Homo sapiens: one gene and its partners. Each later gene encodes a partner of the first gene's protein in a complex. Each region holds a gene or a part of one and is shown in the gene's direction. Other genes may lie near its edges.

The links.
Region 2: the proteins of H3C4 (region 1) and PHF2 are in contact, whole or in part, in a crystal structure (PDB 3KQI), measured with the Homo sapiens proteins. Residues at the interface, in NP_001363866.1 of Homo sapiens: Ala2 (codon at 1,651), Arg3 (codon at 1,654), Thr4 (codon at 1,657), Lys5 (codon at 1,660), Gln6 (codon at 1,663), Thr7 (codon at 1,666); in NP_005383.3 of Homo sapiens: Tyr7 (codon at 1,863), Tyr14 (codon at 1,884), Val16 (codon at 1,890), Thr17 (codon at 1,893), Arg18 (codon at 1,896), Phe19 (codon at 1,899), Met20 (codon at 1,902), Ile21 (codon at 1,905), Glu22 (codon at 1,908), Trp29 (codon at 1,929), Glu39, Ala42, Ile45, Asp46, Tyr48, Lys63.
Region 3: the proteins of H3C4 (region 1) and CHAF1A are in contact, whole or in part, in a cryo-EM structure (PDB 7Y5U), measured with the Homo sapiens proteins. Residues at the interface, in NP_001363866.1 of Homo sapiens: Arg43 (codon at 1,774), Gln56 (codon at 1,813), Lys57 (codon at 1,816), Thr59 (codon at 1,822), Arg64 (codon at 1,837), Leu66 (codon at 1,843), Gln69 (codon at 1,852), Arg70 (codon at 1,855), Arg73 (codon at 1,864), Leu83 (codon at 1,894), Arg84 (codon at 1,897), Phe85 (codon at 1,900), Gln86 (codon at 1,903), Ser87 (codon at 1,906), Lys116 (codon at 1,993), Arg117 (codon at 1,996), Val118 (codon at 1,999), Thr119 (codon at 2,002), Met121 (codon at 2,008); in NP_005474.2 of Homo sapiens: Val548, Glu602, Glu603, Glu606, Glu608, Asp622, Asp623, Gly625, Glu626, Asp627, Glu628, Asp631, Asp632, Gly633, Phe634, Phe635, Val636, His638, Gly639, Tyr640, Ser642, Glu643, Glu670, Lys674, Arg677, Phe678, Arg679.

What each region holds. Positions count from the first base shown.
Region 1 is NC_000006.12:26,196,139-26,198,897, reverse strand, and holds H3C4 (histone H3.1), read left to right. Parts: upstream 1-1,611; 5' UTR 1,612-1,647; coding exon 1,648-2,058; 3' UTR 2,059-2,114; downstream 2,115-2,759. Other genes in the region: H2AC7 (histone H2A type 1-D), read left to right, coding at 1-47. UniProt on the Homo sapiens protein: Core component of nucleosome. Nucleosomes wrap and compact DNA into chromatin, limiting DNA accessibility to the cellular machineries which require DNA as a template.
Region 2 is NC_000009.12:93,574,930-93,578,674, forward strand, and holds the start of PHF2 (lysine-specific demethylase PHF2), read left to right. Parts: upstream 1-1,654; 5' UTR 1,655-1,844; coding exon 1,845-1,942; intron 1,943-3,745. UniProt on the Homo sapiens protein: Lysine demethylase that demethylates both histones and non-histone proteins. Enzymatically inactive by itself, and becomes active following phosphorylation by PKA: forms a complex with ARID5B and mediates demethylation of methylated ARID5B.
Region 3 is NC_000019.10:4,440,622-4,444,024, forward strand, and holds the end of CHAF1A (chromatin assembly factor 1 subunit A), read left to right. Parts: intron 1-1,623; coding exon 1,624-1,720; intron 1,721-2,303; coding exon 2,304-2,404; 3' UTR 2,405-2,776; downstream 2,777-3,403. UniProt on the Homo sapiens protein: Acts as a component of the histone chaperone complex chromatin assembly factor 1 (CAF-1), which assembles histone octamers onto DNA during replication and repair.

The sequences.
Region 1 (2,759 bases):
TGCTCCCCAAGAAGACTGAGAGTCACCACAAGGCCAAGGGCAAGTAAAACGAGAACTCTTATATTGGCTTTTTAAGGAAGCAGTCTTAACAAAGGCTCTTTTCAGAGCCACCCATGTATTCCTTAAAAGGGCTCACATTTTCTGTGTAAATAGCTATTTTGCAGTTTTCTTTAATAATTTTTCCATTTATAAGTGGGTGTTCTTAACACTGAATCGTGAAACTAACCGTCCATTTTAAAGATGCCATAAAAATACATAAGCAAATTGGCGGGGCGCGGTTCCTTACGCCTGTAATCCCAGGACTTTGGAAGGCCAAGGTGGGCGGATCACAGGGTCAGGAGTTCCAGGACAGCCTGACCAACATGGTGTGAAGCCCCGTCTTTACTAAAAATAAAAAAATTTGTCGGGCGTGGTGGCGCGCGCCTGTAATTTCAGCTATTTAAGAGGTTGAGGCAGGAGAAAATGTTGAACCCCGGAGGCGGAGGTTGCAGTGAGTCGAGATCGCGCCACTGCACTCCAGTTTCGGCGACAGAGCGAGACTGTCTCAAAACAAACAAAAACCCAAAAAAGCAAACTAATTAAAATGCAAAGAGACTTTATGTCACATGTAATTTAAATCGATCAATGCAGCGGCTCGTTAGGATTGCAAAGCTGTTAAAAGGCCTGAGACATACAGGAGAGAAGTTAATGTTTGTCAGTGTTTACATTTACATAAAAATATAGTTAGTGACTTAAAGCAACAGAACCAGAACAAATGTTTTATTGTCTTTTGTATGCATCTTAATGATACGAAATAACCTGTAATTTGTAAGTATTTTTTGGGTTTGTTTTTGCAAGCCACTTTCAACTCTACTGAGCTAACCCTAATTAATTATCAATAGGAATACAAACCTACATCCCCTGGAGCCAGACGGCCCTTAGGTGGAGCTTCTTAGCACAGTGTTCAGCATGACTAAAAGGGCACACTGGTCTTTTTGTGCCATTTATAAATTTGGCTTTTTTTTTTTTTTTTTTTTACAGCAGATTACACAAATACCAGTTGAACTTGTAAAAGATAAGAGTGCTTTCATATGAGGATGACATATTGTGGTGAAATTAAATGTGTTCATGTAGCTTAACATCAGGTTTCATATTGTTACTTATGAGTTAATAGTCATGGTGCATTTGGAACAAATTATTGAAAATATCTCCAAGTTTAAATAGACAAATCAAGATATGAAATTAACCTTTCTAAACTTAAGAGGGTAAAAAGAAATCACTTGGCCAATCACAACTAGCGCGCGTCTTTTTAAAACGTTGATCAAAGCCAGTTTCAGCGCCAACATTTAAAAAAAAATTAAGACACGTCATCCTAGTAGCTAGACACAATTTTGCCAAGGAAAACCAAAGTACGTTTTAAATAAAAGCTAGAAACATGGCACAGAGGGGAAAGGGTTGAAAACACCAGCAGTTAAAGATGGACGGAGGAAAGTTTTAATATTTGGTCTACATGCAGGAGATGTTCTGTCAGGGAGTGGGCGTCTCCACCAATCGAGCTGCAGGGGAAAGGCTGCCTTGTCCAATCAGAACAGGGGTGTCTTTATATATACGGGTACGAAAGGCTAGACTTTCGTTTTTTCGTCATTTAGCAGGGTTTAGAAGTTCGCAATGGCTCGTACCAAGCAGACTGCTCGCAAGTCCACGGGTGGGAAAGCGCCACGCAAGCAGCTGGCCACCAAGGCTGCTCGAAAGAGCGCTCCAGCCACCGGCGGCGTGAAGAAGCCCCACCGTTACCGGCCCGGCACGGTGGCTCTGCGCGAGATCCGCCGCTACCAGAAGTCGACCGAGCTGCTGATTCGCAAACTGCCATTCCAGCGTCTAGTCCGTGAGATCGCGCAGGACTTCAAGACTGATCTGCGTTTTCAGAGCTCGGCGGTGATGGCGCTGCAGGAGGCCTGCGAGGCCTACCTGGTGGGGCTGTTTGAGGACACCAACCTATGCGCCATTCACGCCAAGCGAGTGACTATCATGCCCAAGGACATCCAGCTTGCTCGCCGCATTCGTGGGGAGAGGGCGTAAATTGTCTTGTGAATGTGTGCTAACCAAAACCCAAAGGCTCTTTTCAGAGCCAACCACCTTTTCTATAAAAGTTGCTGTTTACTGTTGCTGTCCGTAAACTGGAACCTCTGTTCACTCAAGGTAAGTAAGCATTCTTGCCTCTATCCGTTCCCCCTCCCCTCACGGAATTGGTGCAAAAAGCTTTATTATAATTGGGGAGTTCTTAAAACAGCCTTTAAGGTACTCTTATATCTCCTTGTTTTGGGGGCCGCTTTCTTAGGCTTGGATGCCTCCGGCTTGGGAACTTTCTTGGCCACCTTTGACCAACCAACCTTCTCCAGCAGCCTCCACCAGCAAAAGCTTTTGGGGTCCGCTTAGTACTCTTTTTCGGAATAAGGACGCCCCAAGCTTTCTTGGGCCTCTCGGCTGCCAGGACAGCTGTCTTGGGCATGACTGCAGCGGCTTTTCTGGCCTCGGTCTTGATTTTCCTAACACTGCCTGGTTTGGCGGGAATGAACCTGAGGCGCTGCACTCCTTAGCACGAAGATGCCCTCGTTTGTTTTCAAGGCCCAACTTTATTCAAATAATTTTTAAAAATTTGTATTTATTTTTAGGGACGAGGTCTCACTGTGTTACCCAGGCTGGCCTCAAAACTCCTTAGCTTGGCCAGGCGAGGTGGCTCAGGCCTGTAATCACAGCACTTTAGGATGCCAAGGCGGGCG
Region 2 (3,745 bases), on another chromosome or scaffold:
AAAAAAAAAAAAAAAAAAAAAATTCCAGGCTTTCACCCAGGAGGAAGGGAACCAGTGACAACCGGAATTCAGGTAGGAAGGCCTATTGCAGGCCATCCTGGCCAGTCCAGAGGTGTGGGAGCTGGGGGTCTCCTGCTCTTTCCTCTCCCTCTATGGCCAGCTACTTCTCCCCCCGCCCCCTTCCCCAGTGCCCAGTGCTTTGGGCACTGCCCTGAGTCTGTATCCACGGGGTCACTTGTTGGGGGTGGGTGGCTGACTCTGAGGGTAGATTTTGGCTCAGTAGGAGGAAGGACCTTAATTGAGCCGCCTGCGGTGGAGCAAACGGCCCCTTGGCAGCTGCAGGTGGGCGGTGATGGTGAGGGGCTGAGGGGCTAAGGAGCCTTGTCATGGATGCTGCTAGGAGACTGAGCCAGGTTTCCTGTCCGGAGATTCTGGAATTCCGAGCAGGGGTGGCCCACATTTCCCAGCACGATGCGGATTTTGCTGAGGGAGGATGGGGAGAGAAAGAGGGTGAGGGAGGAAGGGCGGGCAGGGATGTGGCCCCTGCCCAGCGCGGATGCCCCAAGGATGCAGCGCTGGCGAGGCAGGGAAGTCCTCCTCTAGAACGCGTGCAAGTGACCCCTCAGAGCGCACCTCCGCTTCTCCTCCCCACCGTGGGGGCTCAGTTCCCTGGACACGGGGGCCAGGGTTCCCATACTCCTCGCCCCTTAGGTCACGGGCCTGGGGGGCTCAAATGCCAGGGAGCTCTCTCTTGACAGAGCTGACCAGCCCGGCCCCTTAGGTCACGGGCCTGGGGGGCTCAAATGCCAGGGAACAGAGCTGACCAGCCCGTGCCAGCGCACTCCCGGCCCGGGCTTCTGTCCTCTTCCTCTGGGGCTGAGCATCAGGGAAGTCCGCGGGATCCTGCGAGGGAGGCGGCAGTCCCCAGCCGAAAATGAGGGGAAAGAGGAAGTGGTGTCCCAACCAGAAACTCAGTGGGGAACGGAGGGAGGCAGCGCGGCCGAGGAGGAGGAACACCCCCACCGTGGTGGGGGTCAGAAGAAAGTTAGGGCCAAGTATTTGCTTGTCGGCCTTCTAGACTAGGAAGGCTCTCCTGCGGGCTCCACTCCCGCACCCCGCGTCTCTCCTTCTGCCTTGCCCGGGTTCCCCCAACTTATCTTATCCTCGGGGTCCCGCCCACCTTCTCCCCGGGGTCCCACCCCACTTTCAGTCTCAAGGCTCCCCCAGCTCACCTTCGCGCCCGCGGACCCCTGGGTCTACCTTCAGCCTTGGGGGCCCTTCTCGGCCTATCTTCCACCTTCGAGATCCCCCCACCCGCCTTCTCCCCCGGCAGGGTCCCCCCGGCCGTCTTCTCCCCCGGCAGGGTCCCCCAACCCACCTTCTCCCCCGCAGGGTTCCCCAGCCCGCCTTCCCGGCGGCGGGAGCGGCGGCCCAGGCCGGCGGGCGGAGGCGGCGCCACCCGGGGCGCTGACGTAGAGGCCGCTCGGCGGCCGGGGGTCCCTTCGGTGGGGCCGCGGCTCCCCGCCCGCCGCCCCCGCGCGTCCATTCCCTTTTGTGTCCCGCGCGCGGCCCGTCCCCCGCGCACACTAGCGCCCTGAGCCCCGCGGGCCGGCGGGCGGCTCCCGGCGCGGCCCCTCCAGCCAGCGCGCCCGGCATTGTGTGGACGCGCCTGGCCGGGAGCGCGCGCGGGGGCTGTCGTGCGCCCCCGTCCCCGTCCCCTCCCGGCCGCGGCGCCGCCTGCGCCCCGCCGCCCCCGCCGCCCCCGCGCGGCCCGGCCCCCGGCCCGGCCCGGACCGACCCGGGCAGCGCAGCGGCGGGGCCGAGCGGCGGCGCGGCGCGGCAACATGGCGACGGTGCCCGTGTACTGCGTCTGCCGGCTCCCCTACGACGTTACCCGCTTCATGATCGAGTGCGACGCCTGCAAGGACTGGTTCCACGGCAGGTGAGCGCGCGGCGGCTGCTCGGCTCGGCCCGGCCCGGCCCGGCCACCTTGCCCGACCGAGCCCCGCGCCCCCGGCTGCGCGCCCGCAGGCCCGGCTCGGGGACGGGCCGCCGCCGCCGCCGCCGCATTCCGGGCGCCCCGGTCGGGGCTGGGCCGTGCCGGGCCGCGCGCCCTTTTGTGCCCAGGGCGGGGGCGCCAAGCACGGGGCCCGCGCTGGGCGCCCCTGGCCGCCGCGCACAAAGCGAGGCCCGCGGGCCGGGAGGTGGGCTCGGGGCTCGGGGCGCGGGGAAGTTGGGGCTCCAGGCCCGGGCCGGGCCGCCTGTCAGCTGGGTCGCGGCGGCCGCAGAGGCCGGGCATCCGGAGGGAGGCCGAGGCCCGGAGCCCCCGCCGCCTCCCCCCTGCGAAGTTGCAGGAACTTTCCCCGCGCGGGCTCGGGGTTGGCCGGGCCGGGAGAAGCGGGCGCGCAGCCCGGCGCGGGTCCCGGGAGAGGCGCGAGTGGCGGGCTCCGACTCCGGCAGGGCTGGGGAGTCCGTGGGGGCTCCGGCGAGGTGGCAGCCGGCGCGCCCACCCTCCGCCGTGGCCGGCGAGCTCCCTTGGACCTTGTCCCCGAGGGCAGGACCCCTCCCGGACCCCCGCGGAGCAGCTAGACCCGGCAGGCCTGCAGGTCCGCGGGCAGGAGTGCGGTGACAGAATAGTGTCTGTGAGTTGGGTAAGGGGGGTTTGTTGTGGCTTTGCCACCTCCTCCCTGGCCTTCAGTTTTCCCCGTTTCTCTCCTCTCCGTTCCCGGCAGGAACGCCGGTTTTGACATGATCTTATGCTCCCTAAGGAAGATGGGGAGGGGGGAAGGAGGTAACGCTTGGAGACACTGAAAACCCCCGCCCTCTTGGCCCTTGCCGATGGCCATGACCTGGCCCCATGCCTAGGGCAGGTCCCTTCCCACCAAGAAGTAAATGGAGGAGGAGGAAGAGGAGGTGACAGTGTTGCCCAAACTGCTCCAACAGGTTCTCTTGCATCTGACTTTGCCTGTGGGATGTGTTTGGACCCGGGGCTGGCCAGGGCTGTATGCCCTCTGGGGCTCCAGTCCCAAACCACCGGCAGCAAGCAGCCGGGGGAAAGAGAGGGGTGTGTGGTGGTGGGTGGTCCGGGATTCTCCTTCCAGAGAGGAGATCCTCCTGCAGGTTCTAAGACTGGGTCTTCAAGACTGGTCAGTGGTGCTTAAGAGTGGGCTGTGGCCCCAAGTCCAGTCCTGCCAGTTTACATGTGGGGACCTGGGTGGCTGGGATGTGACAGGGCCTGCTATGTCTGTCAGCCCCAGTCCTGAGTCCTACCTCCCTGCTGTTAGAAGGGCCTGGGACTCTGTGGGGTGGGGATGCCCACGGAAATCTGGGCTGCCTTCCTGGGTATGCCCAGGGCTGTGGAAGCCCCTTAGAGCAAGGGAGACTGAGTGTGAACACCGGGCTCTGCCCAGAACAGGGCTGACATGCACACCCTCAACTGGCAGCCGTTGAGAAGTTCATGGCCGGGCCAAAGTGAGTGAGAGCCTCTAAGGCTCCTCATATCCAGGGATGCTGAGCTGCTGGCCCTGAAAAGCCCTGAAAGTGGTGGGGCCTCTGCCTTCTCCCCCATCTCCACCGGAGCCCTGACCTGGCGAGCGCAGTCACTCTGCTACAGAACCTTCTGGGCACCTGTGTCAGCTCCTGGCTGCTGCCCACACTCGGGGCCCAGAGTAGGGAGAGTGAGAGAACGCGAGAAGACCTTTGTCTCGCTGCTTAGGGGACCCTCTGGGAAGGGAAGGCTAGTTCT
Region 3 (3,403 bases), on another chromosome or scaffold:
TTCTGAGAGGTGTCCTCAGGCAATTTCATGGTTGGGTGGGGCTAGGTTGCTCTTACACATCCTAGATGGACAGCCTGCCACACGCCTGGGCCGTGTGGTACATAGCCCAGGGCTCCTGAGCTGTGGACCTGTGCAGCAGGTGACTGACTGCTCCATCCTGCAGGCACTTGTAACCCAGTGGTATATGTGTCTTTAACATAGAAAAGGCACAGCAGAGGCCAGGTGCGGTGGCTCATGCCTGTAATCCCAGCACTTTGGGAGGCTGACGTGGGCGAATCCTGAGGTCAGGAGTTCGAGACCAGCCTGGCCAACATGGCGAAACCCCCGTCTGTACTAAAAATACAAAAGATTAGCTGGGCGTAGTGGCGGGCACCTGTTAAAAAAAAAAAAAAAGGCACAGCAAAAATATCGTTGCGGCTGGGGCAGTGGCTCACGCCTGTAATCCCAGCACTTTGGGAGGCCAAGGCAGGCGGATCACTTCAGGTCAAGAGTTCGAGACCAGCCTGGCAACATGGTGAAACCCCATCTCTACTAAAAATACAAAAATTAGCCGGGTGTGGTGGCAGGTGGCTGTAATCCCAGCTACTCAGGAGGCCGAGGCAGGAGAATCACTTGAACCTGGGAGTCAGAAGTTGCAGTGAGCCAAGATCGCACCACTGCACTCCAGCCTGGATATATGGCAAGACTCTGTCTCAAGATTTATATATATTAAATAAAAATACAGTTGTCTGTAATCCCAGGACTTTGGGAGGCTGAGGTGGGTAGATCATAAGGTCAGGAGTTTGAGACCAGCTTGACCAACATGGTGAAACCCCGTCTCTACTAAAAATACAAAAATTAGCTGGGCGTGATGGCATACACCTGTAATCCCAGCTACTCAGGAGGCTGAAGAACGAGAATCGCTTGAACCCGGGTGGCGGAGGTTGCAGTGAGCTGAGATTGTGCCACTGCACTCCAGCCTCAGTGACAGAGTGAAACTCCCGTCTCAAAAATAAAAAATAAAGGCCAGGCATGGTGGCTCACACCTGTAATCCCAGCACTTTGGGAGGCTGAGGCGGGCGGATCACGAGGTCAGGAGATCAAGACCATCCGGATAACACGATGAAACCCCGTCTCTACTAAAAATACAAACTGGGCGTGGTGTCAGGCGCCTGTAGTCCCAGCTACTCAGGAGGCTGAGGCAGGAGAATGGCGTGAATCCGGGAGGCGGAGCTTGCAGTGAGTCGAGATCGCGCCACTGCACTCCAGCCTGGGCAACAGAGCGAGACTCCGTCTCAAAAAAAAATAAAAATAAATAAATACAGTTGTAATCTGATGGGGCCACTATCAGGTATGCGGCCTGTCACTGACTGGAAATTATTCTGCAGTTGGCAATGATGGCTGTTTTTGGAGATCTGAATCCAGTTCATTTGAGGGAACCCCCAAGGTTCTCTGGTTGTGGCCTCTTGAATAAACCTCTCACATTTGGACAGTTTGTTACCAAATTGGGTTCTGGATGTTGGTTTCCTTCCGTGTTGGGGGTGGGAGGAAGGTGTCACACCTGTGGAGTTCCCCCCGCTACCGCACTGGCACCAGGGTGGCTGCTGCCTGCAGTGCTGATGGCCGTGTACCCTGTCTGTCCAGATTGGTGCTGAAGACATGGACGGCTTCCAGGCAGACACGGAGGAGGAGGAAGAGGAGGAGGGCGACTGTATGATCGTGGATGTCCCGGATGCTGCGGGTGAGAAGGGCTGTAGATAGCAGAACGCACTGGTGAGGTGGGCGCTGGAGGTAAACCTCAACAGAGAAGGGATGGGGCTGCCTAAGACTAGCTCCACTGTGAGCAGCCAGGAGGGCTTGCAGCTGGAAGTGGCTCCTGCCCTGCCACATCCTCGGGCGGGCTGGGCCGTGGGTGCTGACCATGCCAGGCATCGTTCTGGCCGCAGAGCCACAAGGGCCTATGCTGGGAGTCTCAGGTGGTTGTGACGTTAGATGGGGGTCAGGGAAGGCTGCACTGAGGCAGCAAGGGAGGGCCAGGTGGATTTCTGGAGCACTCGCCAAAGAGGAAGTACAGAGGCCCTGCAGCAGGCTGCGTGGGAGGAGTGTGCCCGGGTGGTGGGGGGCAGGCAGGGTCAACCTGAGAGCAGGTGAGCAGGTCACCTCTAGAAGAGGCACAACGCCCCAGCCTCTGCCTGTCCCCACTGTCAGGTGGAGGGTCCCGCCCTGGGGTTGTTGCAGGCCCCATGAGGCAGCAGGGTGGGGTCTTCCCCCAGGGAGCCCAGAGGGCCCAGCCAGCTCAAGACCCTCCCTCTCTTGCCCTGCAGAGGTCCAAGCCCCGTGTGGAGCCGCTTCCGGAGCTGGGGGTGGTGTGGGGGTGGACACCGGCAAGGCCACCCTGACCGCGAGCCCACTGGGTGCATCCTGAGAGCAGGGGTGACGTATGTAGAATGCTTAGGGTGTCCTCCCCACAGAGCAGATACTTGAACCGACTCAATTCCTGTGTAAAGAGCACTTTGTCCTGCTTCACGGACCTCCCCAAAGTGTGCAGAGTTCTATATAGGATGCTGGATTAGTTCCTTTGATATTTGTAAAAATTCCCCCAAGAGCCGCATATGAATCTGCCCTTTAATAAAGCATTATTGAGATTGCTGGCCTATTGGGGAAGCCTGCGGGCACAGGAGCAGGCGTGGAATCCAATACTTGTAAATGAATTGAAGCGTCAGGACCACCCGCCTGGCCACGTGCGCGGGCCCCTGGACCTAACGAGGCAGTGTATAAACTTATTCTCTAGCCCTGAGCTGCTCTGTCTGTCTTTTCCGAAAACATTGTGTTTCTCTGAGAGTGCACCTTGCCCATGGCCCGGCCCCATGTGGTGCCTGGTGTCTGGGGCCAGCCTTGTGCCCTGCAACAGCACCGTCCCATCTGTTTGTCACTAAGTCACCCTCATACCAGGCTGACCTGGGTCAAGGTGCGGGTTTTTCCGCACGTGCTTCTGTCCGGCGATCCCTCCTGCCCTGGGTTGGGGGGTTAGGAGAGGGTGTTCCCAGAGACCTGCTAGGGTCACCTCCCTGAACCCGGAGCTGCTGGGAGCCGAGTTTGGCTTCGAGTCTGAGGCTTTGTGAGAGCCCACCCCAGGTCAGGTGCATCTTTTGCGAGTGCTGGAGCTAGAAGGTGACCTCCTCCCCGCCCCAGGTTGAGTGGGCTTTATCCACACTGTCCGAGGGAGGACAGGCGACAGCCGCTGTGGTACTGAGCAGCTCAGAGCACACGCAGCCACGGGGAGGGTCACGCTCGCCAGTCCTGCTCTTCCCAGCCACACCCCACCTGAAGTCCTAAGCTTCCCTTCAGGGAACCCTATGTGGGAAAAGTGTCAGCTACCTCCATCCACCCAGTCAGGGACGGCAGGGCGCCCGGGCCAGGCCTT